Homo sapiens: one gene and its partners. The protein of the gene in region 1 interacts with the protein of each later gene in a pairwise test. Each region holds a gene or a part of one and is shown in the gene's direction. Other genes may lie near its edges.

Region 1 (3,570 bases):
AGGAGGGTGTGGGGAAGGTTCCAACTGCCCAGCCCCACTTTTCACAGACCTCCTTTTCTCTCACCCCCATCCCCAGAGAGGTCCTAGGGCTGGTGGACATGGCCGCCCTGGAGAATGGGGAGCTGGGGCCCCTTCTCTCCCCTGGCACCCTGCGGGGTTTGGAGGATGAATGCGTCACAGATGTTAAGGTACCTGGAACTTTGCATTTTGGAAGCAGGAGGTGCTGTGGAGGGAGGGGGTCACAGTGGGCTTGGGAAGCCTGTCCCCTCCACCTTTCACTCTTTCCAACTCCCTTTTCCCTTTACGAACTTCTGAGTTCTATCCATGTGCCATAGACACAAAGGCCGCTGTACAGAGACACTTGGTAAAGGTTCAGTATATCTGGACACTTCAAACCTTAGAGTACAAGAAAGTTAGTCACAGAACTACAGCTCACAGGCCCAAAGACTCACAGAAGTATAGCATCAAAGATTTTTTTTTTTTTTTTTTTTTTGAGGCAGGGTCTCGCTCTGTTGCCAGGCTGGAGCATTGACCTCCTGGACTCAAGCGATCCTCCTGCCTCAGCCTCTCCAGTAGCTGGCACCATAGGCACGTGCCATCAGGCCTGGCTGACAAAGATCTTCACATATAAGCAGGGCTGGTAATAAACATGGTTAATTACTGAACCTGCACAGACACCGCTGAGCAGAATGGCCCAGCCATGCACGCCGTCCCCGGCTACAGTGATGTTTGCTGTCTCAATTCCAGTCCTACTTCCAGCCACAGAAATCAGTCAATGCTACTTAAGAGCCTAGAACCATAGAAAAGAGATCTGGATCCTTAAACTCATCAAATTGAGGATTATACTTTTTTATTTTTTTAATTACAGATGTCTCCCTCTTTTGCCCAGGCTGGAGTGCAGTGGCATGATTACAGCTCACTACAGCCTCGAACTCCTGGGTTCAAGGGATCTTCCCACCTCAGCCTCCTGAGTAGCTGGGATTACAGGCACACACCACCATGCCTGGATAATTTAAAAAAAAAAAATTTGCAGAGACAGGGTCTTGCCATTTTGCCCAGGCTAGTCTCAAAATCCTGGCCTCAAGTGATCCTCCAGCCTCAGCCTTCCAAAGCTCTAGGAGTATAAGCATGAGTCACCCCAGCCGAGACAACACATTTGATCAGAGAATCAGAGATGTGAGAACCTTTGCAGCCCAGCCTTTGGAGTTCTTGAAACACAGAATCTGAGAATCTTAAACTAACTGTTTGGCAGAACCTGAGAGCAGAGTCTTGGGACCAAAAGACAATAAAACATAGACCCTTGGCCGGGCGCGGTGGCTCACACCTGTAATCCCAGCACTTTGGGAGGCTGAGGTGGGAGGATTTCTTGAGGCCAGGAGTTCAAGACCAGCCTGGACAACATAGCAAGACTGTCTCTGTTTTAAAACTTTTGTGGCCGGGCACAGTGGCTCACGCCTGTAATCCCAGCACTTTGGGAGGCCGAGGCGGGTGGATCACGAGGTCAGGAGATTGAGACCATCCTGGCTAACACAGTGAAACCCCGTCTCTAGTAAAAATACAAAAAATTAGCTGGGCATGGTGGCGGGTGCCTATAGTCCCAGCTACTCTGGAGGCTGAGGCAGGAGAATGGCGTGAACCCGGGAGACGGAGCTTGCAGTGAGCCGAGATCGCACCACTGCACTCCAGCCTGGGCGACAGAGCGAGACTCCATCTCAAAAACAAAACAAAACAAAACAAAAATGTTTTGTAAAACATTTTAAAAGTTAGCTGGGTGTGGTGGCACGTGCCTGTAGTCTCAGCTACTCAAGAATCTGAGGCGGGAGGATTGAGTCCAGGAGTGTGAGGCTGCAGTGAGCCATGATGGTACCACTGCACACCAGCCTGGGGGACAGAGCAAGACGTGGCCTCTAAAGAAAAACAATATTTAATATAAATAATACTTCATACATATCATAATATGTAATAATAGGATTTATATTTAATATAAATATTAAGTATACATTATTTGTGTATACATATTAACATATAAATGTGTATATTATAAATAATATACAATAATATATTATATTATAGCTTTATTTATAATGTACACATATATATATTTTGAGACGGAGTTTCACTCTTGTTGCCTAGGCTGGAGTGCAGTGGCACAAACTCGGCTCACCGCAACCTCCTCCTCCCGGGTTCAAGTGATTGTCCTGCCTCAGCCTCCCAAGTAGCTGGGATTACAGGCATGCGCCACCATGCCCGGCTAATTTTGTATTTTTAGTAGAAAAGGGGTTTCTACATGTTGTTCAGGCTGGTCTTGAACTCCCAACCTCAGGTGATCTGCCCATCTTGGCCTCCCAAAGTGCTGGGATTACAGGCATAAGCCACCGCACCTGGTCACATGTATCTATATTATTTATAATATATTATTTATAATATGTATTATTGATTTATATTTAATATTTATATGTTAATATAGATTACATATTTCATGTGCTATAGTATATAATACATACTAATTATTAATATATAAATAACGTATTATGAATTATTAATATACACATTATATAGCTTATACTAATATTTAATATATAAATATATTACATATATAACATATATTTAATACATAAATATATGTATATATTTAATACATAAATATATGTATATATTTAATACATAAATATATGTATATATTTAATACATAAATATATGTATATATTTAATACATAAATATATGTATATATTTAATACATAAATATATGTATATATTTAATTATACACACACGTGCACACACACACAATTAAGCCCTTGCTTATTAGATGGAGGAAGCTTAAAACCATGGACTAATTTTATTTTATCTATTTATTTATTATTTTTTAATTTATTTTTTTGAGATGGAGTCTCACTCTGTTGCCCAGGCTGGAGTGCAGTGGCACAATCTCGGCTCACTGCAAGCTCCGTCTCCCGGGTTCACGCCATTCTCCTGCCTCAGCCTCCTGAGTAGCTGGGACTACAGGCGCCCACCACCACGCCCGGCTAATTTTTTGTATTTTTAGTGGAGACGGGGTTTCACCGTGTTAGCCAGGATGGTCTCCATCTCCTGACCTCGTGATCCACCCGCCTCGACCTCCCAAAGTGCTGGGATTACAGGCGTGAGCCACCGCGCCCAGCCTATTTTATTTTTATTTTTGAGTTGGAGTCTCACCCTGTTGCCCAGGCGGGAGTGCAATGGCATGATCTCCACTCACTGCAACCTCTGTCTCCCAGGTTGAAGCAATTCTCCTGCCTCTGCCTCCTGAGTAGCTGGGATTACAGACACGCACCACCACGCCCAGCTAATTTTTGTATTTTTAGTAGAGACGGGGTTTCTCCATGTTGGCCAGGCTGGTCTTGAACTGTTGACCTTAGGTGATCCGCCAACCTCAGCCTCCCAAAGAGATTACATGTGTGAGCCATCGCGCTTGGCCAAACCAGACTTTTAATATGAAGTTCCAAACCACAGAGTTAGGAGTGGGAAGGGCTGCAGAAGTTTTCTGGCTCAGCCTCCCTCCCCAGCATCACCTTGACAAGCTCATAGGTAG
Region 2 (3,570 bases), on another chromosome or scaffold:
ATAATGGGCAAAAATTTAACAAGACCATTTAACAATATGGATAGTCTTTGCCTACCTATATCACTCTCTCAATCAAACACTATATCTCAGAGCCAAATTTATGATTTTGCAATTAGATGGATTTTTAGTGGTGGCAATAATTAGAGAGTATCACAGTGATGGTCTCTGTAGCGCTAAATAGACATAAAGCAGCCTGCAGTATATTATACGGAATTTCTGACTCTGGAAATTAGTTTGGACTTAGGTTGTCTATAGCTTAGGTTTCTCTGAGCACATCTCATACATGCTAGTAGATGGTGCAGATACTATCTGTGGCACGTATTTTGGCACTCATTCATATTTAGATTGTTACCAAATTGCTTTGGGTGTGTAATCATGTCTTTCTAGAAAGATTATAAACTTCTTGAGAAGCAAGGACCAAAAATTACATTTGTTTCTCATGCTTACAATGCTGTACAATGTTGGAAATATGGATGCTTAAATTGTAGTTCAATTCTTCATTACAATCACCATCATCACCCAAACAGCTAATATTTATTGAACAGGTCCAGGCAGGATATCTAGGCAAAGCCCTTATTAAAAACGACCTCATTTAACCCCAACAACTTCAACAAGCTAGGTGCTATTATTTCTCCCATTTTATAGATGAGGAAATTGGGGTTAAGGGAGTCTTTGTCACGTCCCTATCATGGGTTGAACTAAATTGAATTTCAACATCTCCTCCAGGAAACACCAAAATGAGGATGAAATAATTGCAAGAGGCCAGGCACAGTGGCTCACGCCTATAATCCCAGCACTTTGGGAGGCTGAGGCGGGTAGATTGCTTGAGGTCAAGAGTTTGAGACCAGCCTGGGCAACATGGCAAAACCCTGTCTCTACAAAAAAATACAAAAAAAATAGCTGGGCTTGGTGGCATGCACCTGTAGTCCCAGCTACTCAGGGGGCTGACGTGGGAGAATTGGTTGAGTCCAGGAGGATGAGGCTGTAGTGAACTGAGATAACACCACTGCACTCCAGCCTGGGCAACGGAATGAGACCCTGTCTCAAAAAACAACAACAACAACAACAACAACAAAAAAAAACAAGTGTAGGGAATCAAAAAATTTATTTCCTAGAATAGTGGCTTTCAGACTTTTTAATTGCACCTCCCTTTCAATAACATATTATCAGTATAATTCCCAACATTTGTATGCTAATTATTATACTATATACAAGTACTAATAATATGTACACTAAAGAGATACACAAAATATATATTTATAAGGGTGAGCCAAATAATATATTCAATGTAACTCTCACAATGCAAAACCATTTTGCTTTCACCAAAATGTTATATTTTCTATAATCATTAATATGTCATAAACATTACTAAAATAAGTAAAATATTTTAATAACGTGGTGAATGCATTTATTTTATTTTTTAATCTGAGCTTAACACTATGTGATACAGCAATTTGAAGTTTGATATGTTAATTTACCTTGTTTCATGATTTTGACCATCATGACTGAAAAATTACCCGACAAACAAATATAGATTAAAATGGAAGAACACATCTTTGGATATTCTTATCATGTCATACCACTTAATTTTCAATCCATCATTCAATGATGGATGCCTCTCTTTCCTTCCTTCCACAACTAAATTCCAAGATCTATAGCTTTAACACCTCCCTCGCATAAACTCACTCACTTGCTTCTCTCTATCTTCATTATACTCTAATGACAAAAGCTCGACTATGGAAAACCTCCAATGCTGATTAAATCCAACTGCTCTGTCTCTTTCACTGTTGAATATATCTGAAGAAAAACATAAAATTTTTTGAAAGGTCTTACTTTAAATTCACAGCCACTGCCTTCAAGTGGATTTCATTGTTGCTCTGGAAACAGCCCATGTTTCCCCAGTCCATTCACTCTCCTCTACTGGATGATTTCATACCTTTAGCTTCTCTTCAAACATCTAATAACTCTTCCCCATTCTCACTCTCCACTGATAACGTTGCCTCCATATTTTAAGAGAAAATAGAAGTACGGAGGAAAGAAGTTCCAATATCAACAACTCATTGGCATTTGTGTCCAGGTATACTGTTATTCTGTCTTGTCACTATGGATAAATTGTCCATGCATCTATCCAAGCCATCTATGAACTAAATCTTATCCTCTCTTGCCTACTCAGGGACATTGCTGCAACAGTTCTCTCCTCGCTCTTACATATTATGCCTCATCCATTTTACAGAAACATTTCCATCAAATGGAAATAGAAAAACGTGTTGTCATTTCTCTCACATTAAAACGTAACAACAACAACAACAACAACAACAACAAAAAACCTCTTTGATCTCTCATCCTCATCCAAACTCCACTCATTTTTTTCTGCTCTCCCTACAGCAAAATTCCTCCAACTTCTCTTGTCCCATTTACCCTTAAATTTATTTTAACTAAGCTTCTGCCCTCTTCACATATCACAGAAACTAATTTTGTCAAGAACTCCAGTGACTACCATGTTGCTCAATCTATCAGTCAATTCACTGTACTCTTCTTACTTGATCTATCAACAGCATTTGACACCAGCTGATCACTCGTCCTTCATGAAATACTTTCTTTTCTTGGCTTCCAAACATCAGACTCTCCTAGTTTCCTTTCAGACTCAGCTTTTCCTTTCTATTGTCCCTTGCTTGTTCTTTCTCATTCTCCGACCTCTAAACATCACAACGCCCCAGTGTTCCTCTCCATCTACACCCACTAACATGATGGCCTCATACAATCTCACAGCTTAAAACATCAACTATGAGCTTAAGACTCTTAAATGTATATCACCAGAGCTCCTTAAATTTCAGCCTGCTTGACACACTTACTTGGATTTATAATAAGCATCACAAACTAATATGTCCACAACCAAACTCATCATTGTTCCCCTCCCCATTTATTCCTCTTACATCTTATCCATTTTAGTGAATAACAACTTTATCTTTCCAATTATGCAGGCCTAAAATACTGGAGTCATCTTTGTTTCTTCTCATTCCCTACCCCATATCCATGTCAGGAACTTCTGTTGGCTCTATTTTCCAACCAAGTATCACCATCTACAGAGCTAGCACCTTGGTCAGAGACACCATGCTCTCTTGCCTAGATGAATGACTGTAATGATCTCTTAGCTAGTCTCACTACATTTGCCCTTGCCTCTGTTTAATTTGTTCCTAGCATAGCAGCCAGAGAAATCCTACAAAAGGAAAGTGTGCAACACGTTTAAGTTCAAAAAGTCTTTTAAGCACTTTGCCATTAGGAAACCAATAACCTTTGGGTGATACAAAAAATGTTTGTGGTTATGCCTGAATTTACTACAACGTATTTTTGAGCATTTAGCATTAACTACTTGTGTTTGTAAAATTAACCACACACTGATGGCATCTTGTAGCATGTGAACTGCCGTACATTGCAGTAGTCTGAAACTTGGAACTGTTTTTCAGGGTATCTCAGATACTGTATATGACATGTAGTTATCTGAATATTATACATGGGTGGTTTCATCAATCTGAGTTGTAAATATTTCTAGGGCTTAATTTACTGTTTTAA
Region 3 (4,305 bases), on another chromosome or scaffold:
CCGTGGCGGGCCCGTCATTGCCATTGTAAAGAGTTTTATTTCCTTTTCTGATTTTATGGCATTGCGCAGACCCACCCGTTACAATGGTGACAGTGGACATCCTTGTCTTATCCCTGATGAGAAACCGAAAAATTTCAACATTTCACCATCCTATTCACTCTCCTTTTTTTGTAGACGGACTTTATCAGAGTGAGTCATTGCATTCTGTTCCAAATTTGCTGAGAGTATTCATTTGAATATATGTTGATTTTCATCAAACAGTGCATCTATTTCGATTACCACAGCGTTTTTTCCCATTCATGTGTTAATATAGTGAATTCGATTGATAAATTTGTACGTTTTTAGGTTCGATTATTAAAACTTGAGACAGCGTCTCACTCTGTCACCGAGGCTGGAGTGCGGTGGTGTTATCAGAGCTCGCTGCAGCCTTGACCTGCTGGGCTCAAGCGCGCCTCCCACCTCAGCCTCCTGAGGAGCTGTGAGTATAGGTACATGCCACCATGCCCAGCTAATTTTTCGATGGTTTTTTGTTTGTTTTTTGTAGTGATGAGATTTTCTGATGTTGCTTAGGCTGGTCTCGAAGTCCTGAGCTCAGGTGATCTGGCCAGCTCAGCCTCCCAAAATACTAGGATTACAGGCGTGAGCCTTGGCCTGGTCTGGTTTTTCTTATATAGGGGTCTTATCTATATAAAGACTAAAGTTAATCTGTGCCTTTGTGCGGGTGGGCTAAGAGCATGATGACTTTTATCATTCTATTGATTTAAAGAAAACTGTCCTTGACTTACCAGTGTGTAAGTCCATGAAAGCATAATTCTGTTGAAAGCATATATTGTTAATGGGTGTTGGGAACCGTGCACTTTCCGCTGCTGTGGGAGCATGTCCTTGGAGGTACCTTTCATCTGTTTTCTCAACTCCAAACATCTTAGGACCATGGGTTGTGACTGGTAGGACTATGTATCTTGCTGCTTTCAAGACGGAGTATATTTTCACGTGGTGTCACTCTGGCTGTCCTGTTTCCCTAATACTGTCACTTCACCCTCTGCGATTCTGATGCTACAAATGATAGATATCGTTTTAGCATTTTCTTACGGGTCCTAGCGATTCTATTCATTTTTCTTTCAGTCTCTTTCTCTGACTTGTTCACATTGAACAATTTCCTTTTGGGATAGGTTGCTATTTCTGTTTTCGCAGGTGGTTTACCTGTCTTCCCAGCCAGTCACAGTGGTCCTTGTCCCCATGGTGGGTCCGGGGCAAGAGAGGGCCCTGGGTTGGGGGTGGGGTTCAGTTGAAGATGGGGTGAGTTTTGAGGGGAGCACTACTTGAGTCCCAGAGGCATAGGAAACAGCAGAGGGAGGTGGGATTCCCTTATCCTCAATGAGGATGGGCATGGAGGGTTTGGGGCGTGGCGCTGGGAACGGCAGCCCTCCCCAGCCCACAGCCGCGCATGCTCCCTGGGCTCCCGCCTCAGTGCGCATGTTCACTGGGCGTCTTCTGCCCGGCCCCTTCGCCCACGTGAAGAACGCCAGGGAGCTGTGAGGCAGTGCTGTGTGGTTCCTGCCGTCCGGACTCTTTTTCCTCTACTGAGATTCATCTGGTAGGTGTGCAGGCCAGTCATCCCGGGGGCTGAAGTGTGAGTGAGGGTGGAGAGGGCCTCGGGTGGGTCAGGCGGGTCCCGCTTCCTGGTCTGTGGCCTCCGAGGGAGAAGGGCCACGAGGTCGTCCTCCTTCCCTTCACAGGCTGCGAGGCCACCGGCGGCTTCGTGGTCGTGAAGGGGCCTGGACGGGGAGGAAGGTGGGCCGTGGAGGGGAGGCGGTCAGGGGCTCAGGTGAAGACGGGGTGAGTGCTGTTGGGGGGATGGAAGTCCCGAGGTGCCGGGATCCCCGACGACACAGGGCAGATTCCCTGAATGGGGCCCCCGGCGGGGGCGAGGCGGGCGGTGAAGAAGGGGCCTGGCACCTGGGAAGGCTGCGGCCTGGCGAGCGCCCCCTCAGCGGTGTGGAGTGCGGAGCGCCCGAGTGAGAAGCACTGCAAGGTCTCACCTCCGCCATGGAAGGTCCGAAAACAGTGGGAAGGAGTGGGCGAGGCAGTGCGGTCCAACCAAACTTGTTGTGAGTGGGGGTGAATGGCTCTAGGAAGTGGGAGTGTGCCCAAAGCAGCAATCACGAGAATTGTGATTCACTAGGGTTTTCGTGGGGAGTGCACTTGTGAAACTAAACCTCATCAGAAATGACCTCTGTCTGCGGGGCGCAGTGGCGCTCGCCTACGTATTCCCAGTTACTGGGGACACTGAGGTGGGAGGATCCCTTGAGCGGGAGGTCGAGGCTGCAGTGAGCTGTGATCACGCCGCTGCACTCCAGCCTGAGCAACACAGCGAGACCGCGTGTCCAAAAGAAATTTAGAAAAAAATGTCCTCTGCCTTTTGCCACACGCCTTAAGATGATTGCTCTGCCAGCCTGGCCAGCAGAAGTGGCTTTGTAGGCACTCAGACAGCGTACACACGTATGCTTAACTCTGGGACTTATTTTGAGAGTATTTTCAAAAGTAAAACGGCAAGTTAACATTTATCCATGGAAGTGATCGAATATAGCAGCCCTCTGGAGCGCACGTTCCCAATCACGGTTGTCTGTTTTCAGTGTGAAATATGAGTTGGCGAGGAAGATCGACCTATTATTGGCCTAGACCAAGGCGCTATGTACAGCCTCCTGAAATGATTGGGCCTATGCGGGTGAGTGCTTAAACGTTAATTCGATGTTTTCTATTAGTAGAAATTAATTTTTGTGATAGCGTCGTTGCATTAGTGTGGAAATGCTGATAAAGGTCTTTCCTGCTCATAAAAAATGAGGATGGCATCTCATGAAGGAAACATTGATTCTGGAGGATTTTTTTTTTCCTCTCGTGTTCTTCAGCTTTTGCCCATGACTTCTTTCTCCGGCTTTGTTTGTTAATGACAGATTGTACACATGTATTCCAACACAGAGTATAATAGCCCCCAAAGTCCTCGTGCGTCACTTTTCTCACAGTAACCTCCCTGTGGGTGGAGTAACCTTATTGGGCATAGAGCATAGAGTTGGAGAAATGTCTTTAGGCTTAGTTAGGACCAGAAATAGCTATGTATTCTGTGTATATATGTAAAATTTTGTATCAATAACGAAACTTATTTTCTATTTGCACACCCACACGTATTCCCCAGCCCGAGCAGTTCAGTGATGAAGTGGAACCAGCAACACCTGAAGAAGGGGAACCAGCAACTCAACGTCAGGATCCTGCAGCTGCTCAGGAGGGAGAGGATGAGGGAGCATCTGCAGGTCAAGGTGAGGGAAAGGGAAGAAGAACGTCTGCTGGTGTGTGCGTGTGTGTGTGTTCGTGTGTGTGTGTGCACGTGTGTGTGTGTTAGGCATTGTCACATAGGAGGAAGAGGAGGAAAGAAAACAATGGAAAGAATGCCTGAAATTGACTGGAAAAGCGAGGAGGCTATGTAGTTTGCAGCTTAGCTTAGGCAAATCCCTCACTATGATAAAAGTTCTCGACTTTATGAATGAGAGAATGGAGGTGCCAGGATTGTGTGTTATCCAAGAACCCTTGACTGGTGAATACAACATTTGTACTGTGTTCTAAGGTTTGTGTCTTCCTATCATGTATGTTGCTGGAAAGAAGGAAGTGATTTTGCTGAAAATGCTTAAAACTCAAAAGGCTTTACTGTAAGGTAGCTTAGTACTGACCCAAGAATAGACCCAGTTCAGAGGAGCAGGAGCAGCTCCAAAAACCGAGTCGCTGAATGTTGGCCCCCGTTTCCTTTGATTGATATTTTTATATGGTACGTTTGATAAAAGCTGGATAAATGAGGATACTGCCATACAGGTAGCTGGTTTAGTGATTTTTCTCAGCGGCCTTTAGGAGGTGATTAAATCCTTTTATGGTTAGAAAAGCAAAAACGGAATTATCCTGAGATTAACGTGAGATGGAAATAATTTCTCCGAGATAAAATGTTTTGAAAGGAAGCATTTATGTAACGGAGGTCATGGATTATTCCAGGGATGCACTGTTAAAAGTTCCTAGAATCTGACTGACAACAATGCCCATTAATTGCTGTCCGCCCACTCCCTTATTCTCAGTGCGGGGGACAGTATATTTTCTGTGATTCACAAACAATGTTATATTTGGTGCTTTGTTCTTCACGGGGTTCATTTATGGAATATTACCTTTAGGACCTTCGGACCTAAATATAACTTTATTTGAACAAAGTGAAGTTTCTCTTTACCCCAATAGGTAATGGGTGTCGTGACTGTAAGATTTTCCATAGTCCTC
Region 4 (3,023 bases), on another chromosome or scaffold:
GTCTCGGGCTGTGACGAGCATGGTCCCTGGGCAGCAGTGGACGTGGTCTCACACCCAGAGTCTGAAATTTCTGCCTCTTCCTGGCCCTAAAAATATCCTGCCTGTTCCCACGCGGCTCCTGCCTTCTGGAGCAGTCTGCCAGGCCGGCGGTGGGTGTTGGGCAGGGGTCTCAGGCTGCCAGCAGCCAAGTGCAGCCCGTTCTGCAGTGATGACAGGGATCTGTGGGCAGAGGGGACCGAGCCTCGGAGGATGCTGTAGGTGGGAGAGCTAACATTGACTCAGCATTTACTTCAGGCTATGCACTGTGCTGAGTCCCTTACCTCTGGGCTTCCGCAACGTTTCCCTGAGGTCAGTGTGGTTGGCATTCGTGTTTCACAGATAAGGAAACTGGAACAAAGCTTTTCAAGGCCACGCAGCCAACACCTCGAGAGAGCGGGAGAGCTTGTTCACTTGAACTGGATCCCCAAACACCAACAGCCACCCTGGCCACTGGCTCTGACTGAGCTCACCCCACCCCCGACAAGCCAGGTGCCTGGGGAACCTGCCTTCCATTCCTCCCCACTAGCTCCTATGAGGTCTCTGCCTGCCAGGCCTCCTCCTCCCCAGAGGAAGGGACGTTTCTACCACACAGCGACCCCACAAGTCAGCTGAGATTTTGGGGGCACCGAATACTCACATGGAGCCCTGAGTGGAAGGGGTGTAGGAGTCACACTCACACGCATGCACAGGGTCACCCTGAGCTGGAGACCATACCCAAGGCTCTGTGAGGAAATGTGAGTGCGCCCAGGCCCCTCCAGCCTGGTCCAATTTGCTGAGCCTCTAGCTCGACAGAGGTCAGACCAGGTCTACAGCCCAGCGATCCTAGTTCCAGACAGCTGCTCCTTCCTTTCTAGGAGGGCAGCCCGGAATATAATCCAGTGTGGTGAGAATCCATTGCACACTCCCTGTGAGCCAAGCAGACAGGTTTGGGGGCCACTGAGATAGGGGACACTTCTGGAGGGGTCAGTGACTGCAAAATGGTGGCAGTGGGATGATCTGTTATGTCTACCCACGCACATGCAGCTGCACAGTTGCAGAGATGTGAATGCAGGAAGCCAGGTGTGAGTCTGAATTCACATTGGTTTTTTTATCTTTATTAAGCAGTCATTCCTAAGGCCTGCCCGAGCCTGGCATCTCTACAGAGGAGTGGTGCCATCAGGACCCCTGTGGGGCAGATCAACACTCAAGGCAGGTGCAGAATCAACAACCTGTGACAAAGCCAGCCATCCCTGCCAGGAAGCATGGGGGATGAGCTGGCACCTTGCCCTGTGGGCACTACAGCTTGGCCGGCCCTGATCCAGCTCATCAGCAAGACACCCTGCATGCCCCAAGCAGCCAGCAACACTTCCTTGGGCCTGGGGGACCTCAGGGTGCCCAGCTCCATGCTGTACTGGCTTTTCCTTCCCTCAAGCCTGCTGGCTGCAGCCACACTGGCTGTCAGCCCCCTGCTGCTGGTGACCATCCTGCGGAACCAACGGCTGCGACAGGAGCCCCACTACCTGCTCCCGGCTAACATCCTGCTCTCAGACCTGGCCTACATTCTCCTCCACATGCTCATCTCCTCCAGCAGCCTGGGTGGCTGGGAGCTGGGCCGCATGGCCTGTGGCATTCTCACTGATGCTGTCTTCGCCGCCTGCACCAGCACCATCCTGTCCTTCACCGCCATTGTGCTGCACACCTACCTGGCAGTCATCCATCCACTGCGCTACCTCTCCTTCATGTCCCATGGGGCTGCCTGGAAGGCAGTGGCCCTCATCTGGCTGGTGGCCTGCTGCTTCCCCACATTCCTTATTTGGCTCAGCAAGTGGCAGGATGCCCAGCTGGAGGAGCAAGGAGCTTCATACATCCTACCACCAAGCATGGGCACCCAGCCGGGATGTGGCCTCCTGGTCATTGTTACCTACACCTCCATTCTGTGCGTTCTGTTCCTCTGCACAGCTCTCATTGCCAACTGTTTCTGGAGGATCTATGCAGAGGCCAAGACTTCAGGCATCTGGGGGCAGGGCTATTCCCGGGCCAGGGGCACCCTGCTGATCCACTCAGTGCTGATCACATTGTACGTGAGCACAGGGGTGGTGTTCTCCCTGGACATGGTGCTGACCAGGTACCACCACATTGACTCTGGGACTCACACATGGCTCCTGGCAGCTAACAGTGAGGTACTCATGATGCTTCCCCGTGCCATGCTCACATACCTGTACCTGCTCCGCTACCGGCAGCTGTTGGGCATGGTCCGGGGCCACCTCCCATCCAGGAGGCACCAGGCCATCTTTACCATTTCCTAGAGTTCTTGAGTCCACAGTCTGGCAAGCTGAGGTTAAAAATCATATGTTGAATGCAGCAGTGTCCACTTATGACTAACTTCTTAGAACAGCACAATATAATAGTGGAATTGGGCCTTTCAGAAGACCTCAACTGATGATTTTCACCATTTTGACAGTTTTTAAGTAGAGAAAGCTCTCTTATGACACTGAAATCCTACTTGGAAACGGAAGCAAGTAAAGGCAATCAAGCAGGGCTCTGGTCTAAGTCAAGCCTTGATCTGCGTCCCTCCAATGGCTTGCTGCACACCCTCCCTGGCCACTGTGGATGCATCCTTGCTGACCAACACACAGAAGCCAAAATGTTGCTGACAGTGAGAACCACAGAGGTAAGCAAGCAGAGCTGCTGAGTCCTGGGACCATGAGCTCTATCTGAGCAGCCGCTCAGGATGTGGGAGGGAGGAAAGGAAGCCAACGATCCACAGCAGTGGAGAGTGTCATGGAGATACCACTATAAAGCTGGAGTGTGCAAGGGTTACACTCTCACAATAAAGGTAAATGATAACCTAACCTTACAGAAGGGGTCAGCAAGGGAGTTTGCCTGCCTTGACTTTCGTGCTGTGTAGAAGAAGAAAATTCCTCGAGAATTCTTAAGTAGAAGCCACTCTTCAGACAGTTTTAGAGCTAGGCTTCAAATTATGTTAGTGGTAAAAAGACCTCAGT

What was found.
Region 2: the proteins of EXOC3L2 (region 1) and TNFSF18 interact in a two-hybrid assay, tested with the Homo sapiens proteins (one large-scale study listed by BioGRID and IntAct).
Region 3: the proteins of EXOC3L2 (region 1) and GAGE12G interact in a two-hybrid assay, tested with the Homo sapiens proteins (one large-scale study listed by BioGRID).
Region 4: the proteins of EXOC3L2 (region 1) and GPR148 interact in a two-hybrid assay, tested with the Homo sapiens proteins (one large-scale study listed by BioGRID and IntAct).

The regions. Positions count from the first base shown.
Region 1 is NC_000019.10:45,228,381-45,231,950, reverse strand, and holds part of EXOC3L2 (exocyst complex component 3-like protein 2), read left to right. Parts: intron 1-76; coding exon 77-188; intron 189-3,570.
Region 2 is NC_000001.11:173,044,386-173,047,955, reverse strand, and holds part of TNFSF18 (tumor necrosis factor ligand superfamily member 18), read left to right. Parts: intron 1-3,570. UniProt on the Homo sapiens protein: Cytokine that binds to TNFRSF18/AITR/GITR. Regulates T-cell responses. Can function as costimulator and lower the threshold for T-cell activation and T-cell proliferation. Important for interactions between activated T-lymphocytes and endothelial cells.
Region 3 is NC_000023.11:49,568,914-49,573,218, forward strand, and holds the start of GAGE12G (G antigen 12G), read left to right. Parts: upstream 1-1,486; 5' UTR 1,487-1,594; intron 1,595-2,633; 5' UTR 2,634-2,641; coding exon 2,642-2,725; intron 2,726-3,190; coding exon 3,191-3,311; intron 3,312-4,305.
Region 4 is NC_000002.12:130,727,872-130,730,894, forward strand, and holds GPR148 (probable G-protein coupled receptor 148), read left to right. Parts: upstream 1-1,198; 5' UTR 1,199-1,280; coding exon 1,281-2,324; 3' UTR 2,325-2,465; downstream 2,466-3,023. UniProt on the Homo sapiens protein: Orphan receptor.